4 linked regions of the Homo sapiens genome follow. The protein of the gene in region 1 interacts with the protein of each later gene in a pairwise test. Each region holds a gene or a part of one and is shown in the gene's direction. Other genes may lie near its edges. The genes, in order: TCP11L1, IPO4, PAX6 and LHX2.

Evidence for each region.
Region 2: the proteins of TCP11L1 (region 1) and IPO4 interact in binary tests that used the Homo sapiens proteins (3 or more experiments, as listed by UniProt).
Region 3: the proteins of TCP11L1 (region 1) and PAX6 interact in binary tests that used the Homo sapiens proteins (3 or more experiments, as listed by UniProt).
Region 4: the proteins of TCP11L1 (region 1) and LHX2 interact in binary tests that used the Homo sapiens proteins (3 or more experiments, as listed by UniProt).

Annotation. Positions count from the first base shown.
Region 1 is NC_000011.10:33,056,559-33,063,579, forward strand, and holds part of TCP11L1 (T-complex protein 11-like protein 1), read left to right. Parts: intron 1-556; coding exon 557-677; intron 678-1,360; coding exon 1,361-1,581; intron 1,582-2,400; coding exon 2,401-2,537; intron 2,538-4,956; coding exon of another isoform or gene 4,957-4,971; coding exon 4,972-5,168; intron 5,169-7,021.
Region 2 is NC_000014.9:24,185,803-24,193,287, reverse strand, and holds the start of IPO4 (importin-4), read left to right. Parts: upstream 1-4,471; 5' UTR 4,472-4,500; coding exon 4,501-4,569; intron 4,570-4,649; coding exon 4,650-4,736; intron 4,737-4,864; coding exon 4,865-4,944; intron 4,945-5,030; coding exon 5,031-5,072; intron 5,073-5,491; coding exon 5,492-5,621; intron 5,622-5,708; coding exon 5,709-5,888; intron 5,889-6,137; coding exon 6,138-6,203; intron 6,204-6,308; coding exon 6,309-6,410; intron 6,411-6,496; coding exon 6,497-6,580; intron 6,581-6,836; coding exon 6,837-7,001; intron 7,002-7,105; coding exon 7,106-7,159; intron 7,160-7,317; coding exon 7,318-7,427; intron 7,428-7,485. Other genes in the region: TM9SF1 (transmembrane 9 superfamily member 1 isoform a precursor), read left to right, coding at 19-640, 932-1,117, 2,635-2,908, 3,480-3,873. UniProt on the Homo sapiens protein: Nuclear transport receptor that mediates nuclear import of proteins, such as histones, RPS3A, TNP2 and VDR. Serves as receptor for nuclear localization signals (NLS) in cargo substrates.
Region 3 is NC_000011.10:31,808,309-31,815,288, reverse strand, and holds the start of PAX6 (paired box protein Pax-6), read left to right. Parts: upstream 1-3,966; 5' UTR 3,967-4,174; exon of another isoform or gene 4,175-4,273; 5' UTR 4,274-4,448; coding exon of another isoform or gene 4,449-4,461; intron 4,462-5,329; exon of another isoform or gene 5,330-5,383; intron 5,384-6,980. UniProt on the Homo sapiens protein: Transcription factor with important functions in the development of the eye, nose, central nervous system and pancreas. Required for the differentiation of pancreatic islet alpha cells.
Region 4 is NC_000009.12:124,014,747-124,021,767, forward strand, and holds part of LHX2 (LIM/homeobox protein Lhx2), read left to right. Parts: intron 1-375; coding exon 376-779; intron 780-6,352; coding exon 6,353-6,558; intron 6,559-7,021. UniProt on the Homo sapiens protein: Acts as a transcriptional activator. Stimulates the promoter of the alpha-glycoprotein gene. Transcriptional regulatory protein involved in the control of cell differentiation in developing lymphoid and neural cell types.

The DNA of each region.
Region 1 (7,021 bases):
ATTATTATTATTTTATTTTTTTGAGACAGAGTCTCGCTCTGTTGTCCAGGCTGGAGTGTAGTGGCACTATCTCGGCTCACTGCAACCTCTGGCCAGGCTGATCTCGAACTCCTCACCTCAGGTGAACTGCCTGCCTCGGCCTCCAAAAGTGCTGGGATTACAGGCGTAAGTCACAACGCCCAGCCTAAATTGTTATCTTAGACTACCTAATTATAAACATCTTAGGAAACTTACTAGTAACAGGGAACTAAAATTAACAGCTTTGAACTTTCCAATATTCTTATTATATGGCACTGTCATATGCTGTTTCTTGGATTAATGTTGGCTATCCAGTTAGTTGAGAGCGATTCTTTCCAATGAGATGCTTATTGCAAAAAATCACTAACTTTTAAAATAAAGTATGCCCTCAGTTGAAGTATGCCTGGGAAATCTTTCCTTGGTCCAAATCACTGGGATTGATCTTACCCTAAACCCATAGTATTTGTGCTTTTGAAAGTGATTTGAAACTCAAATATTTTGGTTTTTGCCCCCCTCCTTTTTTTTTTCACTGCCCCAGCTTGAAGAAGAGAGTAAAGGAGATTGTACATAAAGCGTTTTGGGATTGCTTGAGTGTGCAGCTAAGTGAAGATCCCCCAGCATATGACCATGCTATCAAACTTGTAGGAGAAATCAAAGAGGTGAGGCAAAGAGTGAATTGTGATGCTTTTCTGGTGTGTTAGGAGTGTTTATTCAACTTCTTGTGTCACCACCAGAAGACTTTAAAGAAATTGAAGGATCAAGAAGTTAAAGTACTTGCCAGAAGGTGGATCAAGAGTGTTTTTGGCTTAATGCCCTTTTTTAAAAAAAAGTTTTAAGCAAACCATGATAACCTGAAGGCATTTAAGACAACAAAGTTATTTCACAAAATCTAGTTTATTTATAAATTTTAATAGGTGTGGACACATTCCATTTATAATGGCCAAAAAGTGACTCAGCCTTTGGGACAGAGAAAGCTTTAGGTGGAGGGACTGTTTTTGCAGCGCCTTTAGCAGTAGCATCAAAGAAGAAATGTATGCATGGAAATTGTCATCAGCTATGGTTGGCTCACAGGCTCACATTAATAAACATGCTTTTCTTTTTTCACCATTAACAGTTTTTTCTTCTATCCATTTAATTGCTACCTAGGGCTTAAATGGAAGCTTAAGTAGCTATTGTAAATGATTTGTAAACATGTTTTTCTGTAGGTTTGTTGAATAAGAAGTAAAATATGTGCAATATTACGTAGCAATTGAGAAGCCCTTATTTGGATAGTTATAAATTACATATAATTAGAAATGATGTCTAAAGAATTTTGATTAAACGTAGCTGTGTTCTCTTGTAGACTCTCTTATCTTTCTTGCTGCCTGGTCATACTAGACTGAGAAACCAGATAACAGAAGTCTTGGATCTGGATCTGATAAAGCAGGAAGCAGAGAATGGGGCGCTAGACATTTCCAAGCTGGCAGAATTCATTATTGGCATGATGGGGACACTGTGTGCACCTGCTCGAGATGAGGAAGTTAAGAAACTAAAGGACATTAAGGAAATAGTGCCCCTTTTCAGGTATGGAAATATGTTAATCATACTCCGTGCAACTACAATTCAGAGGCATTTTCTTTTTTTTCTTTTCTTTTTTTTTTGAGACAGAGTCTCACTCTGTTGCAAAGGCTGGAGTGCAATGGCGTGATCTTGGTTCACTGCAACCTCCACCTCCTGGATTCAAGCAATTGTCGTGCCTCAGCCTCCTGAGTAGCTGGGATTATAGGCACGCACCACCGTGCCCAGCTAATTTTTGTATTTTTAGTAAAGATGGTGTTTCACTACGTTGGCCAGGCTGGTCTCGAACTCCTGACCTCACGTGATTGGCTGCCTTGGCCTCCCAAAGTGCTGGGATTACAGGCGTGAGCCACTGTGCCCAGACCAGAACTATTTTCAATTTAAACTTCCTGAAGTCTTGGTACTCATGGATTTAAAAAAAAAAAAAAAATTTGTAAAATGCAGAAAAGTAAAAAGAAGACATTTACTCATAATTTTACCTCTCAGAGGCATAATCACTCTTATCATTTTGATACATAGATATATTTTTTATACATTAATTTCCTTCAACATTTTCTTTTGAAAAATTCCAAACCTACAGAAAAGTTACAAAAACAGTACAATCAACACTCACAAGCCCTTCATGTGGATCCATCAGTTTTTATCATGTTGTCACATTTGCTATGCTGCCCAGGCTGGTCTGGAACTCCTGGGCTCAAGCAGTCCTCCCGCCTTGGCCTCCCAAAGTGTTGGGATTACAGGTGTGAGCCACGCGTCTGGTCCTCTTTTCCTTTAATGCTATGTTTACTTTACAAATGCTTGCTTCTAAATCCTTTTTTCTTTCAGAGAAATTTTTTCTGTGTTGGACCTAATGAAAGTGGACATGGCCAACTTTGCTATCAGTAGCATCAGGCCTCATCTCATGCAGCAGTCAGTTGAATACGAAAGGAAGAAGTTTCAAGAGATTTTGGAGAGGCAACCAAGTATGTTGAATATTTTGTGGTACTTTTTTTGTTGTCTGTGGTTTTTCATTTTAGCTGCCATAGCTTGTTGCATAATATTATTTTCAGAACAAAACTAAAATTTAGTAGGAGAATAGTCTAATTTGAAGAAGGAAAAGCACAAAATGTTGGGACTACATCTAGAGTTGTTAAGCATTGAAAAGAAAACTTAATTCACAAGCAAAAGGAATGTGAGTAGGCTATGAGAATAGAAATTAAAAACAATGAATTCCTAAATTATAAATGGTTTTTTGATGAAAACACCAGTTTGAAGTAAAATACATTCTTGGTCTTGATTTTTGAAAACATGACAGACATCCTGTGAATGTTAATTCACTTTTCTTCTCCCTGTGTGGCACAGCAGGAAATTTAACTTTGCTTTTGTTCTGGATGCATAAATCTTCTTGTTTCATACCCAGGAAGAGTCTCATTTTTATGAACCTCTCCGATGACTGCAGAAAACAGACGACTCTCAGAATCTAAAACTACGTTGTATTTCTAGGGTGCTTTTTATGGTCTCTGCATTGCTAACTGACATTCTGGGTAAATTTCAGTCTTCAGATTCAATGTATGATGAATTCCATTTGGCCTCTAACTTTGCTGACGAGGAGATGAAAACAGCAGTCTCTGGGTTGGTTGGGTTGCCTGACCAGATTAGTTAAGTGAATGCCCCATGCAGTTGATTCATCCAGCCCCAGGCAGAGGAGTCTGAGGTAGTGCTGGGGCCGGGGCAGGTTGAGAAAGGACAGGGTAGAGGTAGAAGTAGAAGAAGTTTGGTAATGTTTACTAAGTGCCAGGCTTGTGCCAAGGGCTGGATGTACATGATCATATGTAATCCTCACACAGTAAGCTGATGAGCCAGGCACCTTTTTTTTAATCCCATTTTACAGATGTTGGAAACAGGTTTTGGGAGATTTTTGACCAGAATGGATTGACCACAAGCTCACACTCTCACCAGTGTTGTGAGAGTACTGGGAAGAGTTTTTTCTTGTTGTTGTTGTTGTTTTCTTTGAGATAGAGTCTCCTCACTCTGTCACCCAGGCTGGAGTGCAGTGGCACGATCTCTGCTCACTGCAACCTCCGCTAGGCAGAGTTTTGTAGCCTGAAGAGCCGTAATATTAAGGCCTGGACCTGGAAGCTGGGGCATAGTGGAGGACTCACTGGTAGGGTGGAAGCAGCTACAGTGCCTGCATCTAGCACTTAACTCACAACATGAAAGCCTGGGTTTCCCAAAGCTGGGGGGTTACGGAGAATATTATCAGCAGAAGAGAGGGTGAAGCCAGATGGCCCAGGAGTCATGACCGAGAGCTCAGGGTAAACTGGAGCTGCATCCCCCTGCCCCAGTGAAGAGCAAACCACAGCTGTGACCTTGGCCGCCCACTTGGTTTTAAGGAAGCAGGAAGCCTCCACTAACAGAGCTGCAACACCTGCTGGGACCTGACAGGTGCAGTTTTTATCAGATGATGTGTGAGATCCTCCAGCTCTCTCTCTGTATCCCTCAGAGTGCCCCCTGCATTACCAAGCTTAGAAAAGCAGGGGTGCAGGAGGGCTGCTGAAAGCCAGATGGGGCTTCCCTGACAGAGTTCACTTTCCCCCAGGTTGAAAGGAAGCCAGATTGATACAAGGTTAAGATCTAAACAAGGAAAAGCCTCATCATCAGTGTAGAGGATACTTTACACAGGGAAACTCTAGCTGGTGTCTCATCCTATCTGTCTCTAGAGCTGGAGTTGCCAGGGCTTTGGGGTCCATCTCATGCAGTGGTCAGGATGGGAGAGAAGGGAAGGAAGGTTTGTTAAATACCAGGTGGGTGGCAAGGCCTGGCTAGGTGTCATGTATTTGTTACTATTATTATTATTATTTTAGACAGGGTCTAGCTCTGTCCCCCAGGCTGGAGTACAGTGGTGTGATCACCACTCACTGCAACTTTAACCTCCAGGACTCAAGTGATTCTCCTGCCTCAGCCTCCCAGCTAGCTGGGGCTACAGGCATGTGCCACCATGCCCAGCTAATTTTTGTATCTTTTGTAGAGACAGAGCCTTGCCACATTGCCCAGGCTGGTCTCGAACTCCTGGGCTCAAGCAGTCTTCCCACCTCAGCCTCCCAAAGTGCTGGGATTACAGGCATGAGCCACCATGCCTGGCTTATTCATTATCTTGTTTAATCCTCACAACAGCCTGTGAGGTGGGTGTTGTAAATTTGCCTATATCAGGCATCTGAAACTCAGACACATTATGACTTGCCTGAGATCCCTCAGTTAGTCATTGGCACTACTATGATTTGATCCAAGTTTTATTTGATTCCAAAGTTCATACTTTATACTTTATCACTCCACCAGGACATCGATTGTCCCTTAAGTAATTCCGAGAAGCATCCCTTCTTGGTGTCAAGGTAATGTGTGCAGCTTTGTTTTTCACAGATTCCCTGGACTTTGTCACCCAGTGGCTGGAAGAAGCCTCAGAGGACCTTATGACTCAGAAGTATAAACACGCCCTGCCAGTGGGGGGAATGGCTGCTGGCTCTGGGGACATGCCCAGGCTGAGCCCTGTTGCTGTCCAGAATTACGCTTACCTGAAGCTTCTGAAGTGGGACCACCTCCAGAGGCCGTTCCCCGAAGTAGGTCTCCTGAGCCATCTCACTACTCATATTTGTTTTTGTGCTGCTGAACTTTTTAAAAAGAATAGCTTTGGCCAGGCACGGTGGCTCACTCCTGTAATCCCAGCACTTTGGGAGGCAGAGGCAGGCAGATTGCTTGAGGTCAGGAGTTCAAGACTTGCCTGGGCAACATGGCAAAACACCCTCTGTACTAAAAATACAAAAAATTAGCTGGGCGTGGTAGCAGGGGCCTGTAGCCCCAGCTACTTGGGAGGCTGAGGCAGAGAATTGCTTGAACCTGGGAGGCGGAGCTTGCAGTGAGCCAAGATTGCACCACTGCACTCCAGCCTGGGCGACAGAGCGAGACTCTGTCTCAAAAAATAAAAATAAATAAGTAAATAAATAAAATAAAAAATAAAAAGAATAGCTTTATTCTGATATAATTCATGTACCAGAAGATTCTCCCTTTTAAAGTGTACAACTCAGTGTTTTCTAGTATAGTCACAGAGTTACGCATCCATTGCCACTGTTTAATTGAGAACATTTTCATCACCTCCAATAGAAACGCTGCATCCATCAGCGGTCACTGCCCTCCCCCCCTCCCTCCAACGCCTGAAGCCACAGATCTGCTTTCTGTCTCTATGGATTTGCCTATCCTGGACATTTTATTTAAATGAAATCATACACTACCAGCCTTTTGTGCCTGGCTTCTTTCACCAATGTTTTTTCACGTTGTAGCACATATAGCAGTAGTTTAGTCCTCTTTTCCACTGTGTTTTTTTTGTTGTTGTGGTAAAATACACATAACATAAAATTTACCATTTTAACCATTTCTAGTTGTCCAGTTCAGTGGCATTAAGTGCATCCACATTGTTGTGCAACCATTGCCACCAGCCACCTCCAAAACATTTTCATTTTTCCTTCTGTGAAACTGTCTTCCCACCAAACACACCAAACAGTAATTCCCATTGCCCCCGCCCTCTGGCCCCTGGCAGCCACCATTCTACTTTGAGTCTCTGTGAATTGGACTAATCCGGGTACTTAATATGAGTGGAATTATACAATCTTTGTCCTTTTGGGTCTGGCTTATTTTACTTAGCATAATGTCTTCAAGGTTCATTTATGTTGTAGTATGTGTCAGTGTTCCCTTTCTGGGTTTTTTAAAATTTTTTTAAATTTTAGAGACAGGGTCTCATTGAATTGCTCAGGCTAGGTGGTACGACAGCTCACTGTAACTTTGAACTTCAGGGCCCAAGTGATCCTCCTGCCTCAGCCTCCTGGGTAGCTAGGACTACAAGAGTGTACCACCACCCCCAGCTAATTTTTAAGTGTGTTTTTTGTGGAGACAGGGGTCTCGCTATGTTACTCAGGCTGATCTTAAACTCCTGGCCTCAAGTGGTCCTCCCTCCTTGGCCTCCCAGTGTTGGGATTACAGGCATGAGCTACCATGCCCAGCCCTCCTTTCTTTTTTAGGCTGAATAATATATTTTACTGTATGGATGTACCACATTTTGTTTATTCATTCATCAGTTGACAAACATTTGGGTTGTTATTATAAATTATGCTTCTGTGAATATTCCAGTACAAGTTTTTGCATGGACATATGTTTTTACCTCTCTTGGTTACGTACCTAGGATTAGAATTGCTGGGTTACATGGTGACTCTTAAGTTTAACATTTTGAGGAACTGCCAAACTGATTTCCAAAGCAGCTGCATCATTTTACCATCCCACCAGCAATGTATGAGGCTCCAGTCTGTGCTGCTGAATTTTTCTCCTGTTTTTACTCATCTTGATGGAAACCACAACAGAGGTGTGGTTGTTCACAGCTTTATCTAAAGAAACTTCTTCCCCTTCCATGCTGAACAATATTTTT
Region 2 (7,485 bases), on another chromosome or scaffold:
CTGACTTGCTCTTTATAGGTGGAGCAGCTGCGCCAGGCCATTGAAGAACTGTACTACTTTGAATTTGTGGTAGATGACTTGCCAATCCGGGGCTTTGTGGGCTACATGGAGGAGAGTGGTTTCCTGCCACACAGCCACAAGATAGGACTCTGGACCCATTTGGACTTCCACCTAGAATTCCATGGAGACCGAATTATATTTGCCAATGTTTCAGTGCGGGACGTCAAGCCCCACAGCTTGGATGGGTTACGACCTGACGAGTTCCTAGGCCTTACCCACACTTATAGCGTGCGCTGGTCTGAGACTTCAGTGGAGCGTCGGAGTGACAGGCGCCGTGGTGACGATGGTGGTTTCTTTCCTCGAACACTGGAAATCCATTGGTTGTCCATCATCAACTCCATGGTGCTTGTGTTTTTACTGGTGGGTTTTGTGGCTGTCATTCTAATGCGTGTGCTTCGGAATGACCTGGCTCGGTACAACTTAGATGAGGAGACCACCTCTGCAGGTTCTGGTGATGACTTTGACCAGGGTGACAATGGCTGGAAAATTATCCATACAGATGTCTTCCGCTTCCCCCCATACCGTGGTCTGCTCTGTGCTGTGCTTGGCGTGGGTGCCCAGTTCCTGGCCCTTGGCACTGGTGAGGTGATAAAAATGAATTGGGGATTTATCTCATGGGATAGAACTAGGTAGGGAGTTTGTTCAGAAAAGGTCTGTGGATCTTCTCTTCTATCCAGAGGGGCAGACCTAAGGGATAGGGTGGCTCTAGCAAGAATGCACGTATTCTATTGTAGATTTTCTGGATAGCAAAACTGGGGGAGATTGTTTTGCTGGAGGCCCTGGGTCTGGGAGAAGGGGGGCTGATTCCTCTGAAATTGCTAGAAGAGACACAGGTGAGGCCTAACTTGGGCTTTCCGCTACCGTCCTGCAGGCATTATTGTCATGGCACTGCTGGGCATGTTCAATGTGCACCGTCATGGGGCCATTAACTCAGCAGCCATCTTGTTGTATGCCCTGACCTGCTGCATCTCTGGCTACGTGTCCAGCCACTTCTACCGGCAGATTGGAGGCGAGCGTTGGGTGTGGAACATCATTCTCACCACCAGTCTCTTCTCTGGTGAGGACTTTCCTTTCCCTGGTGGGCCTTTCTGGACTTAGGAATGAAGAACACATTGTGGCTGGTCACAGTGGCTCACACCTGTAATCCTAGCACTTTGGGAGACCGAGGCCGGAGGATCACTTGAGCCCAAAAGTTTGAGACAAGCCTAGACAACATAGTGAGACCCTCTCTCTATAACAAAAAATTAGCCGGGCATGGTGGTTCACATCTGTAATCCCAGCTACTTGGGAGGCTGACCCAGGAGGATTGCTTGAGCCTGGGGAGCCAGGGAGGTTGAGGCTACAGTGAGCCATGATTGCACCACTGCACTCTAGCTGGGCTGACAGAGTGAGACTGTCTCAAAAAAAAAAAAAGAACACATCATAGAACTTGGGATAGAGTCAGGATGAGGCTTGAAGGGAAGGAATATTGTAAAAGAAAGAAGAAAACCAAAAAAAAACAAGAATGCATTTCTTTTGAATAGTTTAAAATTACTAAGCCCTCAAAATGTCCTAGGCAGTGTGGAAAGCACTCAGCAATAACTGTGTGAAGTAGGTAATATTTCCATTCCACAGATGAGGAAACTGAACTAAAGGCTGCTTAAGTAACTTGTCTGAGATTACACTCCTAAAAAGTAGTGAACTAGGTTTCAGCAGTCTGACTTGTATTCTCACCCATTACACTAAAATAACACCCTTGAATTTTTATTTTGAAGGTGGGCCCACTCTAGGCTTTCAAACCAGATTGCCCTTTCAAAGGCAGTAGTAGTCTCTGTTCTGAACCCTTCTTGTTCCCAATTCTGTGTGTCTGATTTTTATCCCATCACATTTATATTTGAACCAAGGCTTTCTGAAAACAGGGCCTTAATCCAAAGGAATGTCTCATGCTAGGAATTACCAACTCCAAGGCAAGACAGGCCCCTGGAGGCAGATGGATTTGTGCTACTCTCAGATTATGTAGTAGCTACCTGGATCCTTAATGACACCGGGTTGGGGGATGGTGTTGGTAAGATAAAGAGCAAAGAGTCCGGGTGTGGTGGCTCATGCCTGTAATCCCAGCACTTTGGGAGGCTGAGGCAGGCAGATCACCAGGTCAGGAGATCGAGACCATCCTGGCTAACACAGTGAAACCCCATCTCTACTAAAAATACAAAAAATTAGCCGGGCGTGGTGGCGGGCGCCTGTAGTCCTAGCTACTCACTCGGGAGGCTGAGGCAGGAGAATGGCATGAACCTGGGAGGCGGAGCTTGCAGTGAGCAGAGATCGCGCCACTGCACTCCAGCCTGGGCGACAGAGCGAGACTCTGTCTCAAAAAAAAAAAAAAAAAAAAAAAAAAAACACAGAACAAAGAATAATGGGACCTGAAAGGGTGGAGGTGAAGGCAGTCGACTCTGCAGGGACATCCAGGAGCATGAGTCTGCCGTTAGAGTGGCAGGCTGCTTCAGCCCCCTCCCCTTTTGGTCCTGGATGTAAGTGGGTGCCCTTAGAGATGTAGCTCCTAGTGTTGACCCTCCCTCCGGGGGCCCATCCCTGCAGTGCCTTTCTTCCTGACGTGGAGTGTGGTGAACTCAGTGCATTGGGCCAATGGTTCGACACAGGCTCTGCCAGCCACAACCATCCTGCTGCTTCTGACGGTTTGGCTGCTGGTGGGCTTTCCCCTCACTGTCATTGGAGGCATCTTTGGGAAGAACAACGCCAGCCCCTTTGATGCACCCTGTCGCACCAAGAACATCGCCCGGGAGATTCCACCCCAGCCCTGGTACAAGTCTACTGTCATCCACATGACTGTTGGAGGCTTCCTGCCTTTCAGGTATCCTCCCTTTATTCCATGGCTATTACTGTCAGGTTCCTGACCTCAATTTTTCCTGTCCCTACTCATCCAGTACCCTAACCCAACCCGTTGATCCCTGGTTCAGTGGTACCATTCAGAGATCATTAAATGGTTCCTCCTATCCCCAAGCAGGACTGAGCTTGAATGATATGAGAGTGTCTCACTTATAAAGCTCTCCGGAGACATTTCCCCCTTCACCTTCCTGGTTTCTGACTTTAATGCCTATGGACATCATGTGGGGTTTAAAGCCCATTTGATGACCCATTTACTTTGTTGAATACCTCTTTGTGCCAGGCAAAGAATAAAGTGGAATAAAATGGACAAGATCCCTGCCCTCAATCTATTAGGGAAGATATTCTTGAAGTGAGAGCGGCTAATCATAGGCAAAAAATCCCCATGAAGCCAGGAGATCTGGGGCAGAGAGTGGAGTGAACTCACTTTTCACAATGACCCAGCAACATGGGAGAGGGTGGGGGCTGGATTTCAGCCCAGCCACTGTGCTGATGGTGCACAGCCCTTTAATGCTGTGTATCATCTCTTTTCTTCACAGTGCCATCTCTGTGGAGCTGTACTACATCTTTGCCACAGTATGGGGTCGGGAGCAGTACACTTTGTACGGCATCCTCTTCTTTGTCTTCGCCATCCTGCTGAGTGTGGGGGCTTGCATCTCCATTGCACTCACCTACTTCCAGTTGTCTGGGGAGGATTACCGCTGGTGGTGGCGATCTGTGCTGAGTGTTGGCTCCACCGGCCTCTTCATCTTCCTCTACTCAGTTTTCTATTATGCCCGGCGCTCCAACATGTCTGGGGCAGTACAGACAGTAGAGTTCTTCGGCTACTCCTTACTCACTGGTTATGTCTTCTTCCTCATGCTGGGCACCATCTCCTTTTTTTCTTCCCTAAAGTTCATCCGGTATATCTATGTTAACCTCAAGATGGACTGAGTTCTGTATGGCAGAACTATTGCTGTTCTCTCCCTTTCTTCATGCCCTGTTGAACTCTCCTACCAGCTTCTCTTCTGATTGACTGAATTGTGTGATGGCATTGTTGCCTTCCCTTTTGCCCTTTGGGCATTCCTTCCCCAGAGAGGGCCTGGAAATTATAAATCTCTATCACATAAGGATTATATATTTGAACTTTTTAAGTTGCCTTTAGTTTTGGTCCTGATTTTTCTTTTTACAATTACCAAAATAAAATTTATTAAGAAAAAGGCTCATGCAGTTGGAGGTTTTGGTCTGGATATAGGAACTCGAGCCCTGCTGTTAAGGGCACGGTCCTTTATAAAGCCGAGCTGGCCACTGAATGCCCGAAGCTCGAGTTCTCCAACCCAGCTTGGGAACTCCCGGCGTGGGGAACCTACATTGCCAGAGTCGGGTTTCCGCGATTCAGCCGGTGCTCAGCCTAACGGAAGTGGAGGAGCCGGACCTCTTTGTGGGAAGCGAATTGAATCACCTTGGCAACCCGCGGGGCGTGCAGCAACGCCCTTTCCTCCGGAAGTGGGTGTCAGAACCTCCACGTGCTGTCCCTCCCCCTCCCCTTTTCGGCCCAGTAGCGGCGGCTCAGTTGCTGCCATGGAGTCAGCCGGGCTAGAGCAGCTCCTACGGGAGCTGCTGCTACCGGACACCGAGCGCATCCGTCGGGTACGGAGCAGGCGTAACCGGGCCAGGGCGAGCGGGAGGTTGCGGGAAAGGCCCAACTCTCACCCCTAGCTTCCCCCCAGGCCACGGAACAGCTCCAGATCGTTCTTCGGGCCCCCGCCGCTTTGCCGGCTCTCTGCGACCTGCTAGCCTCGGCGGCCGACCCCCAGGTGAGACCCCTGACTCTCCCCTCCGAGCTTCCCACTGTACGCCACCGGTCAAGCCCCAGTATTCGCCCACTGCGGTCCGCTCAGCACCTTCCTGCCCGGACCCCCACGTGCTTGCTTCCTCGTCCTAGATCCGCCAGTTTGCGGCCGTGCTGACCCGCAGACGACTGAACACCCGCTGGCGACGGCTGGCGGCGGAGCAACGGGAGAGGTGGGCTGGGCCTGGGGTGGGGCGGGGCCAGGCGGAGACTTTTCTTGGGCAGGCTGGGTACCAAACACCTGCCACCTGTGTTCCAGCCTCAAGTCCCTGATCCTGACGGCCCTGCAGAGAGAAACAGAGTAAGTACCTACCCACTTCTCTCGGGATCTTGACGACTTTGTCTAGGTTTCTGCCTTCCTTTTCGGCTCCAGGCTGGGACTTGTGGGGCAGGGACTTCAGTTCTAGACGCAAGGTGGAGTGAGGATTTTAAGGCTGTTTTGAAGACTAAAGTTCTTGAGGAAGGGTGATGATGATCTGCCAAACCCAAGTCAGAAGAATAAGACTGAAATTCAGGCTAAGTTAGACTGAACTTACCAGATTACATGCCCACAGTGCTGTTGGGCTCCCTCTGAGCTGCTGTCTCATGTGTCCCAACTTGGCAAAGACCCTGTGCCCACACCTCCTGAAAGTTTCTGTCCTGGCTGCCCCATTGAGCCTGGCCACTGTGTGCAGAGGAAGGTATTGAAGGGTGATTGGAGGAGATCTCTCCTGTTTGCAGGCACTGTGTGAGCCTCAGCCTGGCCCAGCTCTCAGCCACCATTTTTCGAAAGGAAGGCTTGGAGGCCTGGCCACAGCTTTTGCAGCTGCTTCAGCACAGTACCCACAGCCCCCACAGCCCAGAGAGAGAGGTACCATCACATGGTTGGCAGGAGGGAGGGCCTGAGAGGCTGGATAGACCTTGTAAGCTTGCTCTCCCATCCTCTATTCTTGGACAGATGGGGCTTTTGCTGCTAAGTGTGGTGGTGACCTCCCGGCCCGAGGCCTTCCAACCCCACCACCGGGAGCTTCTTCGGCTTCTGAATGAGACTCTTGGTGAGGTGGGCTCTCCTGGGCTGCTCTTCTACTCCCTGCGCACTCTGACCACCATGGCTCCCTACCTCAGCACTGAAGATGTGGTGAGATGTGGGCCCTCGTTATCTTTGACTCCCTTTCCTCATGCCTTCATGTCCTCACCCGTAAAAGTTACAAAGCTGCTTTGGATTCTTTACCTGCCTGTGGCCCTTCCTGACAATTGAGAGGGGATGCTGTAGGTGGGCCTGGCTGTTATGCCTGGGCTCCTCCTCGCAATTCAGGCTGTGAGGAAGCTGCCAGCTGCTGGGGTGTGAGATTGGGCTGCATCATGCTCTCTGTGATGTGTCCCTCAGCCTCTCGCTCGGATGTTGGTGCCCAAGCTGATCATGGCCATGCAGACTCTGATCCCCATAGATGAGGTGAGGACAGGTGGGCAGGAGCTCTGTTGGAAGGAGAGTGCAGAAGTGTCCAGTTTGGCCCACTGAAGAAGAGCATGGTAACCTTGTGCCTTGTTTGTCTGTCAGGCAAAGGCCTGTGAGGCCCTTGAGGCTTTGGATGAACTGTTGGAGTCAGAGGTGCCGGTCATCACCCCCTACCTCTCTGAAGTCCTCACATTCTGCCTGGAGGTGAGCCTGGAGTGGACATGGCCCCTGCTACATGCTCTGCTGGGACTCTCCTTCCCTGTCGCTGATTTTTATTATTCTGTGGACAGGTAGCTAGAAATGTGGCCCTGGGCAATGCGATACGCATACGTATTCTCTGCTGCCTCACTTTCTTGGTCAAAGTCAAGAGCAAGGTAAGTGAGTGCCCATTGACACACATCACCCCACCCCCATCTCCACCCTTAGTCTCACTCCTGGGGCTTTCGGTCCATCTCAGGGTATCTAAAGTACTGTGGGGGTTCAAGCCTTGGCCTGGCCTCACCCCAGCTCCTGCCTGGGAGGTTGGGAATTTTCTGTCAGACCCCTTATGGCCTGGAAGACTGGAATTTTTAATGTGAGCCCATCCTGGGAGCAGATTCTTAGGGACACTGTTCCACCTTCTCTGTCAAGGCCTTACTGAAGAATCGTCTCCTGCCACCCTTGCTGCACACCCTTTTCCCCATTGTGGCTGCTGAGCCCCCACCAGGCCAGTTGGATCCCGAGGACCAGGATTCAGAAGAGGAAGAGTTGGAGATTGAGCTGATGGGGGAGACTCCCAAGCATTTCGCTGTACAAGTGAGATGTGGGGCAGGACAGAGGGGGAAGGTGTTAGGTGGCTGTGGGACGTTGGGGAGGCAGAGATGGAGTCAAGCAAAGTAAGTCTCCCCATCCCATCTCAGGTTGTGGACATGCTGGCACTACACCTGCCCCCCGAGAAGCTCTGTCCCCAGCTGGTAAGTGTGGCTCTGTCCTTCTGGTGTCCCTACCTCCAAGTGTGCCTAGTCCCCCTGAGGCCAACGACGTTTAGACCCTGGGAGGTGTGAAGGCCTATTACCACAGGAATGGGCAGGCTCTTGCTGGGGTTTCAGAAGCGTGCCACATGCTTCCCTAGATGCCCATGTTGGAAGAGGCTTTGCGGAGCGAGAGCCCATACCAGCGCAAAGCTGGACTCCTGGTGCTGGCCGTGCTGTCTGACGGAGCTGGCGACCACATCAGGCAGAGGTATGTATTCCCCTGTCCCAGGGTGAGGGTTGCCCACAGGGAGGACCATGGCTGTCCT
Region 3 (6,980 bases), 1.2 Mb from region 1:
CAGGGTGATGAAATGGAAAGCAAACTTTTCTAGGAACCCTATTTGCAAAAATCGGAGAGTGCCGCTGATTTCAGTTGTCCTACATGTCAGGAGTTTTAAACCTAACTCCTATCTGGACAACAGCATGGAGGGACTGGGAGGCAAAGCCTTGGGAGTCTGACCCGCTGGGCTGCTAGGAATCCCTTTGCTGGGAGACTCCACTGGACAATGTTATTTTAAAGGTATTTTGGGGGTGGGCAGGGAGAAGACAGAGAGAGAAAGAGAGAGAGAGAGAGAGAGAGAGAGAGAGAGAGAGAGACAGGCTGGCCTCCCAGAGCGAACGGAAGAGGACTGAGGACTGAACCCAGGGAGCCCCTAGCACTGGCCATTTGGCAGGAGGCGAGGAAGGGCGAGGGCACCGCGGCTTCCCCCCAAGCCGAGCAGTGGCCACAGCCTGAAGGTGCCACGGGGCGGCTCTGGGATCTTCTTGGCTTTTCTAGGCTCTGGGCTCGGCGAGGCTGCCGGGTTAGCGGGAACCGGCAGGTTGCTGGAGAAAGGAGAGGGACAAAGGCCTGGAAGTGGGGGAGGCACCAGGGACTGGGCGGCCGGGATGGGAGCCTTTGCCTTTAGGGCTCACTGGACCCGTTTGCCAGCTCCGCGGACAAGGGATCCCACCTTCCCAGGGTCTGCAAAAAGAGAGACGTTTGGGGCACTACAAAGTGACGCAGGTGTCTGCCAAGACTTTCCTTCTCCAAAAAATGCCAGTCTTCACCCTTTCCAGCGCGCCGGCGCTGCGCCTCTGCTTGACCGGGGAAAGAGAGAGTTTGGAGGTGTCAGAACTGTCAGAACTCCGGATGGGAGGCTCTTGGTTCTGAAGCTGGGAGCTGGAGGCACTTCCCCCCAGAAGTGGGCACTTCTTTGCCTCCCCGAAGGCCTGATGGGGTGGGCACAGGGGAATGCCAGGGATCGGTGCGGGTGAGATGCTTGCCTCACCTCATGTTGACGCATCAATACTGGCTAGAAGCTCTGGGCAGGCTCTGGCGAGCCACGGTCCCCCAGCGGGACTCCCTCCACGCAGACAGCCCCGCTACCGGGTGGGACGACCCCGGCGGCCCCCGCGGGAACGCACCCGCCGGCCTGAGAGGTCCTCCCTCTGGCCACAGGGGGCGGAGGGTAGGGGGGAACAGGGGCCTGTGGGGAGGCGGGGAAAGGAGACAGAACCTAAAGCGCAATCCCCGCCGCCCCCCCGCGTCTTGGAGGGCAGCAAGTGGGCCTCGGGCGTGTTGGTAGCCGCAATTAAAATGGCGACCTGCGAGTTGTCTCGGTTTTGTACACACCTCTGGCAACCGCGCCCGCACCTCAGTCTCGGCCCCCACACCCCTAGGCCGCTTCGCCCCCAGAGCCGGTACTTGGCAGAGGGAGTGAGGCTCCCCACGAGGTAGAACAGCACCCCCACCTTCCTTGAGACCAGTCCAGAGAGAACGAGGAAATCTCACTCTCACCCCTCTCTCCTTAAACTTTGAAAACTCGGCCTCATTCTGGGGTTGAACTCCCCTCCCCAAATATTGACACATGGGAAGCAGCCAAGTCCTTTTTGTTTTTTGTTTGTGCGGAGGAGTTTCCAGGAGTCTTTCCCGGAGCCCCCTTCCCCACCCAATGACGTCAGTGGCATTCACTCCTCGCTCCTTGCCTTTTCTGATTTTTTGTTAAAACTTTTCTCCGCAGCGAGATGGGGGTTGGAGGGGTGGGAGAAGGAGCTGATTCAAAGAGCCAGTGCCCTGGGGGGAAATAGCAACAAGATTACGGCTGCTTCTTTCCGAGGCAAAGCTTAAGAAGGTGCTAATCCACTCGGTCGCTAATTGAGAGGTTGTAAAAATGATACTCGCCTCCAGTTCGGACAGAATCACTTCCCCCCCCCCCGCCCCCCCGCAAGTCCCTCGCTCATGCACAGCGGACTTGAGTCTTGAGTCCAAGCTTCTTTAATGCTCGCTTGGAAAGTAAAAGGAGAGAGAAAGAGAAAGCCGACTTTCGCTGGTCTGGGACTCAGGGCCGCGGCCCCACTTGCCGGCATCCTCCGAAAGTCGCGCTCCTGCGAAATGAAACCTCGCCCAGGAGGCCGCGGACCTGGACACCCGGCGCCACCTCCTTCACCTCTGACCCAGGTTTCCTCCCGGCGCTGCGAGCTCCCGGGGAAGGGTTAGAGCCGGCAGCCCTCCCCAGCCCGGGGAGGGGAGAGGGTTATGCGACCCCACCTCTGGCTAGGGCCGGGGAGGCCTTTGCTTCCCGGGAGCCCTGCCCGGGCTCCTTGGTCGCAGGGCTGCTGGGTCCCAGGCAGGAACGAGAGGGTGAGGCCCACATGTGGCCCGGCGGCCCAGGGCGGCTTGCAGCGTCCTCACTGTCCCGGCTGCCAGGGGCTGCGGCGACGCGGCCAGTCAGCAGCGAGTTCAGGTCGCGCAGATTTTATTGATGAGCTCTGACTTTCAGCACTTTCCCTAAGTCAAGAAGAGTCTAGCGTACCCTTCGGCTGCTTCATTTCAGCCTCCCTGCCTCAGCTCTTCAGCCCTATTCCCCCTCGCCCTGTCCTGGGGTGTGTACAGCAGCCCAGGCCTTCCTTCTCCTTCCCGGCTCCGTGGCCCGAAGCCGCCGAGAGAGCTCGGGACAGCGCAGGACCAGGCAGCCGCTCGCTCTCCTGTCACCTTAACTGCAGGCTCCGAGGGGCGCCTTTGGAGTGTACTGAGGTGTGTCCTAATCGTGCGGCATTCAACAAATGGACTTCTGGTGTGTGGTCAGAAGAGAAAAGCCATTTACTTACTTTCCTCCCCGGTTTTCTGGCAACAGCTGAAGGGGAGCTGCCTCCGTGGACTGAGCAGACCCAGGAGAGGGAGTCGTGGTGCGGAGACACACGCACCACACACAGATGACCGGTGGCACACACGACACACGCTGACATACCGACATCGCCAGTGGGACACACACACACACACACACACACACACACACACACACAGAGAGAGAGAGAGAATCCCTCCCAGCATTGGTCATCCGCCCCCCCACCCAGGCTTCCACTCCCCCTCCCCTCTTATCTCCCCTGGCTTCCCCTCCTCTCGGGCGCTGCGAAAAGCAGCCGCACTTAGTCAACAAATGGCACGTGGGAGAAGTTGGTGAGTGTTTGGTGAGGACTCTTCAGGGCTTTTCACAAGAACCCTCTGTACACAAAGTAAGTGGCGTGTTTACTCGGGCCTCTCCAGCCAGAGCTGTGCCTCTGCTCCGCTGCGCACCGCGGCTTCCGAAAGGAGAAAGGAGAGAAGAAAGGGCGGGGAGAGCGGGGTGGAGGATTTGGACAGGCCCTGGAGGCTTGGGCTGGGGAGGCCTCTGGCCTCGTTTAGTTCTCGGCCCGGCAACCTCCTCTCGGCCTAGGCTTCGCCGCGGCCTCCGCAGCTGGAATGGAGCTGCCAGGACCCAGTGACGCTCCCGCCCCTTTCCTCTTCTTCCAAGGGGCCAGGTGGGCTGGGGTGCGGCCGCCGCTGTGCTCTGTGTCTTGGGGCCCCGGCTGGGATGGGGTGGGGGCGGGCGGGGGCGGGGCGGCAGGCCACGCTGTCCTGGAGTTGGCAAGAAAGGACAGCACAGAAACTTGCACCCTCCGAGGACTGGGAGTCCCGAGTCCAGCTTAGGGGGAGTGGGGGCGCGACCCCCAACCCAGAAACCTTCACTTGACCGCTCAAGTTCGCGGCAGCAGGGCGGGCCGCGCCGAATCTCGGCGTGCGCGGAGCGGGGAGATGCAGGCGAGCGCCAGAGCCCGGGCTCGGGGGCCCTGCGCCGGGGAGAGGAGCCGGGACCCACCGGCGGAGCCGAAAACAAGTGTATTCATATTCAAACAAACGGACCAATTGCACCAGGCGGGGAGAGGGAGCATCCAATCGGCTGGCGCGAGGCCCCGGCGCTGCTTTGCATAAAGCAATATTTTGTGTGAGAGCGAGCGGTGCATTTGCATGTTGCGGAGTGATTAGTGGGTTTGAAAAGGGAACCGTGGCTCGGCCTCATTTCCCGCTCTGGTTCAGGCGCAGGAGGAAGTGTTTTGCTGGAGGATGATGACAGAGGTCAGGCTTCGCTAATGGGCCAGTGAGGAGCGGTGGAGGCGAGGCCGGGCGCCGGCACACACACATTAACACACTTGAGCCATCACCAATCAGCATAGGTGTGCTGGCTGCAGCCACTTCCCTCACCCACACTCTTTATCTCTCACTCTCCAGCCGCTGACAGCCCATTTTATTGTCAATCTCTGTCTCCTTCCCAGGAATCTGAGAATTGCTCTCACACACCAACCCAGCAACATCCGTGGAGAAAACTCTCACCAGCAACTCCTTTAAAACACCGTCATTTCAAACCATTGTGGTCTTCAAGCAACAACAGCAGCACAAAAAACCCCAACCAAACAAAACTCTTGACAGAAGCTGTGACAACCAGAAAGGATGCCTCATAAAGGTGAGTCCGCTTCTTTCTTCTCGCTTTATTTTTATTGCAATATTCAGACAGGTCTCCCCCTTCCTCCCCCCTTCCTTCCTCCCCTCTCGCCGGTCCCCTCCCCCACTGCTACGCCGGGAGAGTTGGGCCGGAGAAGTTTCCACGCAGGAGCCCAAACTTTCTACTTCCAGCGAAAGCCCGCGTCGGAGGGCGACTGCCGGCGAGCGGGAGCGGCGCAGGGCTCGGGGCGGGCGGCCAGCTCAGCCCCAGCGCCAGCGCCAGCGCCAGCGCGGGCTGAGCTCGCGGGAAGAAGGGAGACTCCAGGCGCGACAGCAGCCGCGGCTCCTAGCCCCAGCGTCGCCCAATGCTCCCGACCCGCGGGAAAAGACGAAGAGGCTCTGTGGTGCCCAAGGCCCTGGAACGGCCGCAGAGAGCAACCGCTGCCGGCTGCTTTGTCCAGCCCGAGGCCCAGCGAACGCGCAGAGAGCGGGCGCTCCGAGGACTCGCCGAGGGAGCGCCGAGGGAACCTGCTCGCCGCGTCTCCGCCCGCCCGCCGGCCCTCGGGCTTTGTGCCGCACTGGGCTCCGGCGCAGAAGAGTCAGCCGGCACTCGAGCGCCGAGGGGGGCACCGCGCCCGCCACCAGCCCGAGTGGAGTCAGTCGGCAAGGCAGCCGCACGCTGGAGGTAGAGGGAAGAGCGAGCTAGCGCGAGCCGGGAAGGAAGCCACCAGGCCAAGGCGGTGGAACGCGCGCTCCGAGGGAGCTCAGAGCCGAGCGGGAGGACTGTCAGCTTCCACCCAGCCCCCGGGCTCTTGCCCCCAACTCCACTGGAGCGCTGAGCTCGGAACTTGAAAACTCTCTGCTCCCCAGGCTTCCCCCGACTCTCATCTCCCTTGCCTTGCGGAGGCTGGGGCTCTTCCCTGTTCTCCGGCCCCCTGCGCTTGGTGGGTATTTTTCCTTGTTTTCCTCTGATCCAGTCTCACCAGGTGTTGGGATTTCAGCAAGTTTTGAGGTGCAGAGTTGGTTTGCTTTTTTGTTTGTTTTACTCCGAATCCCCTTATGTTTTTCTTGGTAAGGCCTTGAAAATAAATCTGTATGAAAGCATTGGCCTTCCCCCTCGTCTGATCACTTCTTCTCCCGGCTAATTAGTCGGAGTAATTTGAGAGCTTTCGATTCTAAGATCCCAGGAGGAAAAGTGTCTTTTCAAAGTTCATAAAGTTGTTGCCTCTTTCCTTGTGCAGATTTTCTCAGTCTCCCTGCGCCATAATAGCCCTGAATTTTAGCAAGTGTAATTGGGGGAAATGGAGTTGAATTTCAAGTGGAAATGCTTTCTTTTTCGAGTGCTAAAACCTGGCTCTTCATTCATGAGCGATTTCTAGAAAGTTTAAAAACAAAGTGAACGTGGTTTCTTTCTTTCTTCCTTTTTATTTTTCTTATACTCTCCCAAGCTCCCTAAGCCATTCTGGACGTTTAACTCGAACTTGGGAAGGTTTTAGAAGGGGCTGGGAGCAGAAAATGAAATGAAAGGCAAAGAGCTTGAGCCTGGCGAGTTTACTGAAGAGAAATAATAGTTGTTGCGGTTGACATTACATTTTTTATAGCCAGTGACCTTTGCAAAAGCGTGAAGGCAGTTTGATTAGTTGTTATCTTATTTGGCCCTAGAGAGTAAAACTTTGTCATCATAATTGCTAATTACTCTTTTGGCTGGGGGCGGGAGGACCGAGAGCTCTCCCCTTTACCTCAGTTAAAGAGTTTGGGGATGGAATTTGAGAATTAAGTAATTAAAAAAAGAACAGCATTTGAAAACTGAGGCTTGTGTTGGGGACAGAGAGGTGGGGGCAGTGACCACTCTCTTGTGGTCCAAGGCTGGGGCGACTCCAAAATGTCTGGAGACTCCTTCGTTCAGGATGTGGTTCTATGGCCCCAGCGAGGCCGTACAGAGCCTCGGGCTGAGCTGGGGGGCTGAGGCTGCAGTTGGGGGTCTGACCTCTCCGGTGCACAGGACTGCTTCCGGGTGTCGATGTGCCCCACTTCCCGGGTTGCTTCTGCACTTAGTGTTCACGTTTACTTAAGTAATTAGATAGCTTCTTAGCGAGAGGGAAGTGGGAATGGAGCAGAACTGGAATTTGAAATACTACCACCTTCCCAGCTGCTTCGAAAACTAATCAACGAGGCCTCTTTGTGCTCAGCTACTGAATTTAAAAAAAAATGGTATCAAGAAGTTACAAGCCAGGATGGGAGCATTCTGTTGTGATTGTGCACAGCGTGGGTTACAAAGTGGAGTTCTGGAAGTTTTACCCCTCCTAGGGGAATTCCATTCCCCATCTCCCCACCTACTACTCCTTTGCAGCTTCAGGGTCCTGCATTTGTTGGGGTGGGGTATTTTGCATTAGAGTTGGAGATTTTGCCTATCCAGGGCATGGCTATGGGTGCCGGGACTGAGAGACAGGAAGGAAGCATTGGAGAGCCAACCTAGATAAGGGTAACTAGTAACCCTCTGCTGTGGCCAGTATTTACCCAATGCTGAGAAAAAGTCCTCAT
Region 4 (7,021 bases), on another chromosome or scaffold:
CTCTGTGTTTCTTCCAAATTATAAAAGTCAGTAGGATTCCCAGGCGCTGGTTTGGAGGGAGGAGTAAAGGTTGAGGAGGGGGTAAGTGGTAAGTGTCTCCCTCCACTCCCAGGTAAAGGCTTTCCTAGGGCTTGCGGAGACTCTGGGTGAAGTAGAAGTCTCTGTAGGCATAAGTGTGTTAAGGGAAACTATTTTAGGACAGGACCAGGCCTGGGTCAAAATCTAGTTCTCTCTCCCCCCCATCCTCCAAATAAAGGCCGGGTTGTTCGTCTTGAGGAGGGGATTGCCCCCCGCAGCAGCAGCGGCACCTGGAGGAGGAAAAGGGGGGTACCCAACCGTGTGTTCCCACAGCCCCTCCCTCCATGGTCCCTACAGGCGCTTCTCTGTGCAGCGCTGCGCCCGCTGCCACCTGGGCATCTCGGCCTCGGAGATGGTGATGCGCGCTCGGGACTTGGTTTATCACCTCAACTGCTTCACGTGCACCACGTGTAACAAGATGCTGACCACGGGCGACCACTTCGGCATGAAGGACAGCCTGGTCTACTGCCGCTTGCACTTCGAGGCGCTGCTGCAGGGCGAGTACCCCGCACACTTCAACCATGCCGACGTGGCAGCGGCGGCCGCTGCAGCCGCGGCGGCCAAGAGCGCGGGGCTGGGCGCAGCAGGGGCCAACCCTCTGGGTCTTCCCTACTACAATGGCGTGGGCACTGTGCAGAAGGGGCGGCCGAGGAAACGTAAGAGCCCGGGCCCCGGTGCGGATCTGGCGGCCTACAACGCTGGTGAGTGCGCGGCGCACGAAGCGCCCCCATAGGGTTGGGGGAAAGTGTGCGGCCTCGACGGCCGGGAGCTGGATTGAATCTCTGTGTGCTGGGCAAATAGCGAGCCTTAAGCACCGGACGGCCTCGCAGAAGGGACATTAGCCCCCTGGGCTTCCAGACTGTGCGTCCTCGGCTGGAGCGGGAGGAGAGGGTGCAGTGGTCCCTTGCTGCTCCGGGTGCAGGGCCTTGTCTCTGATAAATTGTTTTTTTGGAGATGGCTTTTTGGTTTGGGCCTTTGCCCCACTTTGCTAGGCAGGAAGTGGCAGGGATGGAGAAAGCAAGGCGGCGCTGACGCCAAACAGGTTTTGGGTTGGCGCGGCTGAGGGCCGGGAACTGGGGCAGCGAAGGAACGAGGCAGGGCGGCGAGGGTCCCAAGAGAAAGGGCTGGCTGTGGCCCGGGGCGCCGAGCTCGGCCTGGAGTGCGGCCTGACCTCGTGAAATGTCCCAAGGGCGGCAGGCTTGGGGAACTCGGGCTTGGGGAACTCAGGAAAGCAAAGGCTGCGGTTCCTTTTGCTCGGCCCGATCCTCCTTTAAAGACAGGTCTCAGTTTTCCCGGACTTTTTCCTCCGAGTTTCCTGGCGCCTGCTGGGGTGAGGGCCGTGACCCTCGGAAGCGAGCCCCCCGGGCGGGGACGAGACCGGAGCAGGCCTGGCCTCGCGCCGGGGTGGGGTGGGGTGGGGTGAGGTGGGGGGCTTGGTTCGGATTTCCGGCATCTTTGAACCCCAGGCCATTCCCGGAGAAGCTCTGCCCCCTCCCGCGCCCCTCCCTGCTCAGGACAGCTGCAGAGGTTCTGAGTTCCGGCAAATGAGCCGTCAACATCTGCCCGAAGTCTGCAAGGCCCGGAAAGGTTTATGACTCTCCGGGCTTCCGAACTAGAGTTTATGTGCAATTATTTTCTTTCTTTCGTTTGCAACAGAATTAGATTTGGAGATTTTGTGTTCTTCTTCCTTTTCCCTTTAGTCTAATGCACAAGCAGAAAAAAGCAAAAACAAAAACAAACCCAAGACTGTGCAGAGGGTGCTACGGCGGGAAGAAGTCAGTTATTTTCATCTTAAAGAATCTGAGTTGAATAGAGAGGGAAATGAGGGGCGGGTGTTCGCTCCAACGAAATCGCTTGGAGGATCATGGGGCGTGTGTCCCTGTGTGCGGAACTGGGAGGAAAACGCAGCCCCCAGTTTGGTAAATGGTGAAGCAGCGGTAGGCCGGTCGGTGGCGCGGATTTAAGATTTGCTGAAGGCACTACCACAGATGTAGCTCTCTGGAACTTCCATCCCTCCTCTCCTACCACCCCCCAAAAAAAGACAAAACCGAGTTCAGACCGGCTCCCCCAACACCAAGCCGCTTCTATTTATCAAGTGGGTCAACTTCCACTCGGAAGCACCTCGCGGGGCTCGGCTCCAGGGCACCTGGTGGCTGGGGAGCTGTATTGTTTTCCTGGGCACGGAGGTTCGGCGCCGGTTTTAGGATTGTGCAAAAAGAGAGTAGAAGGTACAGAGATTTATTTCTGCTTTTTGCTGTTCAGCCGCCGTTTGCCCCAGCGAGGTGGGCTGGAGGCTGAATTTCAAGCCTTGTTTAACCTCTACAAGAGACACCCTCCATTCAGCCATCTCACTTTCTCTCTGGCCTCCCTCTCTCTTTTTTTCCTTTCCGTTCTCTCCGTCCTTTCTCTCTATCTCTGTCTCTGTGTGTGTCGTGTTTGTTCCCGTGCCCTCCTCTCCGACCTTGGCCGGGGCTCCTAGTCCTGAGAGAAACGGCGTTCGGTGCGCCGGCGGTGGCTATGCGGCTGGCTCTTTCGGGGCTCCCGGGACTAGGTTGGGGAAAGAGGGCATCTCCCCGGCCTCTCGGGGCCCAGCCCAGTCTTCCTAGATCTGGCGTCCGCCCTTCCCTCCCCTCCCGCACTGGCAGGAGAGAAATGGCCGCAGTGTGGGCCGCGGGGCAGCTAGGACTGGAAAGCGGGGACCCTGGAGGGTGCGATCGCGGACGGGGTGTGCGGGCGCGGGTCGTGTGCGTGTGCGTGCAGGGTTCCGACCACGGGGACACGAGCTTGTTTGTGGCAGTGTCCCACATCCTGTGGCCCAGCCACGACGACCCCTTGCAAAGCCTCTTGCTCTGGGGACAGTCCCTCCGAGGCGCGGCGGCACCTTACTGAAGGGCGGCGAGCTGGGGGCCGAGTGGGGAGGGGGCGCCGTCGGGGCGCCGGGCGCTGGGCTTACAGCAGAGCCGCGGGCCGCGGGGTCGGAAAGTCCTTCCGGGGCGGGGCCGCAGCGGCCTCTTCCCGCAGCCCCTCGGGCCCGGGCCCCGGTGGAACGGAAACCTCCCCCTACCCCGGGAGGGGCTGCCAGCGGGCTGGGGGTGCGAAAACGGCGGCAGGAGCGGGCGAGGGGCCCGGGCCGCGCACTTTGCGCCTGGGTTTGCGCGCCGCGGCCGCGGGAGTCCCGCGCGGACCGGCCGGACGCCCGGCCTCCCCCAGCCCCAGCTTTTTGTGTGTGTGTGCCTGGCGGCGTAATTACTGATTTGATTCCAATCCATTATTTAGACAATTGAACCTACAATCTCGTCTTTAGTAAAATGAGGCGAAGTCAGATTTGATTACAGGTTCAGTCCCAGCGACAAGAGCTCGAAACCCGATGGGTTAATAACAGATCACGAGTAAATTATTCATGATTTTACGAGCTCTTTAGCTCCATTGAATCGGCCTAATTGAGAGGAAAAAAAAAAAAAAGGAGAGAGAAAGCCCGGGTCCTCCCCCTCCCCTCGGCCCCTCGCTCCTCCCCGGATCCGATCCTGGGGAATCTCGACCCGCCCCCGGGCACTGGGGGCGGGAGTGAGGGGGTTCGGGGCGCCGGCCAAACCTGGGCCCCACGGCTGCCTCCCCCGCCGCCGCCCCCTGCCCTTGCCTCTGGCCGGCCTCGGCCTCGCTACTTAGGGCCGGCTCCTTTCCCTTTTTCTCCACTCCCCTTCTTTCCCCTTTTCTCTACTCCCCCGCCAATAACGGCTTCGGAAAAGGCCTCCCCCGCAGGGACCGGGTCTCCCGGAGCCCCGGGATTCAGCTCGGCCACCGGACCCTCGCCACAAGCTGCGCCTGTTTCCGGGACTCGCTTTCCCCTCCGCTCTCCCTATTTCTTGCTGTCTTTGTAGCTGTCTCTCTGTGGTTCTCCTGGCTCCTTCGCTTTCTTTTCCTCTGTCTGTCCTCTCTTTTTCCTGGCTCTGTCCATCTTCCGTCCCTACCCCCTCTCTCTTTCTCTCCCTCCATTCTGCCTTTCTGTGTTTGTCTTTTTCTCTCCTTTCTCTGCCCTTTCTGTCCCCCTCCCCCGCACTACTACCCCACCTAGGCGGCACTCAGGGCAGGTCCCTTGGGCCCATGGGGGCGCCGGGGTCCCCACGGAGCTCATTAACAGCAGCCAGGCCCAGGCGGGGGCTCGGTGGAGGGATGGGCCCAAAGATACCCCGTAGGGAGGCTGCCCCACCCCCAGTGGAGCTGGGGACTGGGGGAAAGAAAAGGGTTGCTCACCTCAGCGGGTTCCAAGCAGTTCTGGTGGATCAGGTTCAGAGGCATCCTCTGATCCCCTTTAAATTGCCGGACCCGCGCTCTTCACTCTGGGCGTGCTCTCTGTGGGAATGCAGCCCCGGGGGTGAGGGGACCTGAGTGCCGGTGGAAAGAGGCCCCTAGGAGGTGTAGCCCCTAGCTAACAGCTCCAAAGGCAGGGGCAAGACTTGTATCTTGCAAATTCTCTCTGCAAGGGGCTCTTCCCCATCTGGGCAGGGGAAGGGGGAGGTCACCAGCAGAGTAAAAGTCCTTTGGAGGTAGTGTGGCCAGGCAAAATGCAGCATCCCCAGTTAAATTGGAATTTTGGGTACGTAACAAATACATTTTTAGTGTAAGTGTCCCCGGCAATATTTGCATTTTGGAAAAATAACGAATAAATTTGAAATTTGTAGTATAAGTGTCCCGTGTAATATTTGAATTTTAGATAAATGACAATTTTTTAGCATAGCTGTGTCACCTGTAGTATTTGAATTTCAGGTAAACAACAAATACATTTTTAGTATAGGTATGTCCCATGCAATATTTAGGACATGCTTATACTAAAAAATTACTTATTATTTTTCTGAAATTTATATTTAACTGGGCAACCTGTATTTTCATTTGCTAAATCTAGAGCTCTGTTACGGGTATGTGATGAGGGCACAAGATACCTTCTCAGTTCTCACTTTAGGCGGACCGAATGTACACCCCTTATGAGGCTTACCCCAAGGCAAGACCTTAAGTGTGGCATGGCTCGGGAGGTGCCATGAGGAGGCGACCTTGGGAGGGGTCCTGCAGGTCCCCATCAGCTTCCAGGTGGCTGAGCAATTTTCTGAGGCCCAGGTTTTCACCCATATTCCCCACCCCCAATGCCAGCCAGGCATTGGCAGCGTGGCCCCCATGAGGCTCCTTGTGGTTAGGGACAGGCTCCCTCCTCCCTTCGTGGTGTAGTGGAAGAAAACAAGGAGTACTCCAGTGCTAAATCTAGGCTCAACAGATCAAGATCAATCTAGCTGGTTACCGGTGGTGTGGCAGTGTGCAAGTGGCTTCATTTCCCTTAGCGTTAGTTTCCACATCTCTAAAATGGGAATAGTCATAGCCACCTCTCTGAGAGGTAATGATGTACAGTGACATTTGTAAAGCCAAACACACACCATAGGTGTCTACTACATGTTTATTTCTGCCTCGGACTTCCTTCCCCGTCCACTCTGCCGCTCTCTGTGGACTGCCGCAGATCTCTGAACTTCCCCGAGCCTAATTTGCTCCACTTGTTCACGGAGAAACAATCATCTTACAGGGTAGCGATGAGGATTAAACTGCAAAATGCAGTTTCCAACCTTTGGCCCAGTGCCCAAGGCCCAGGGGTCCCTCAGTACTTTTGGGTGTGGCAAAATGAACATGAATCTCTGTTTCAGCAGTTTCTAGGTGCCGGTCCCAGACACGGTAGGGGGAGACGGCAGAAAGCACTCCTCCTTAGAGTGCCTTGGAAAACAGGAGGAGGGCAGGCCCAGAGACCCTGTCCTGCTGTGTCCAAAGTCAAGTGACTTCCCTTGCTGAGCCTCAGTTTCAACATCTGTAAAAACGGGAAAAATAATACCTGGTGCTCCTAGGATTGTTTTAAGTACCTAAAGAAAATGTGCCTGGAAAGCCCTTTAACACATCACCTGGAGTTCAATCGGCCATCAACAAGTCGTAGCTGTTGTTGCTGCTGCTGCTGCTGCTGCTACTATTGTTCTTATTGTAACATAATGGCTCAGAATGATTTTTGGATTCTCCCAGAGCCGGGATTCAGTGCTGCAGTTCTTAGCAGTGTGATCCTGGGTGGATCGCTGTCTCTGAGCCTCAGTGTTTCCATCTATAAAATGGGGATGATGTCCCCCTTTCATTGTGGCGCAGACATGCAGCAGGGTTAAGGATTGAAATGTTTGGCAGTGGGTGGGGCGAGTGTGGATTTGGCATGGGGGGCGGGTCAGGAAGTTCACCCACCGGCTCTGTGTCTCCTCCCTAGCGCTAAGCTGCAACGAAAACGACGCAGAGCACCTGGACCGTGACCAGCCATACCCGAGCAGCCAGAAGACCAAGCGCATGCGCACGTCCTTCAAGCACCACCAGCTTCGGACCATGAAGTCTTACTTTGCCATTAACCACAACCCCGACGCCAAGGACTTGAAGCAGCTCGCGCAAAAGACGGGCCTCACCAAGCGGGTCCTCCAGGTCAGCCAGGGCCAGGGGTGAGGGCATCTGCGACCACCAGGGACTGGGGTGGAACCCTGCACCCCTCGCCGTGGGCCTTGGAAGGACCTTCCACCCTGTGTCTGCTTCTCTGTGTGTTTAATCTTTCTCATTCTCTTTCTTCACCTCTCCAGCCTGTCCCCATCTGTATTTCAGTCTTTTTTTTCTTACTTTGTCTTTTCTCTTTTTCAGTTTTTGCCTCTCTGTTTTTCTGTTTGCGTATCGCTCCATCCTCATTGTCTCCACACTCGGTCTCTTTTCTTTCTTCTAAACAATTCTTAGTTTCTGTTTATTATTCAAGTGACACTCATTTTACACACATTCACATCATAAAAGGTTCAAACATTTCAGATAAATCTAGAGGCCGCCCCACCCCATCCCAGGACGTACACCCAAGGTGACTATCATTAGCTCCTGCTTCTTGCTTCTTACCCACTCTAGTTTC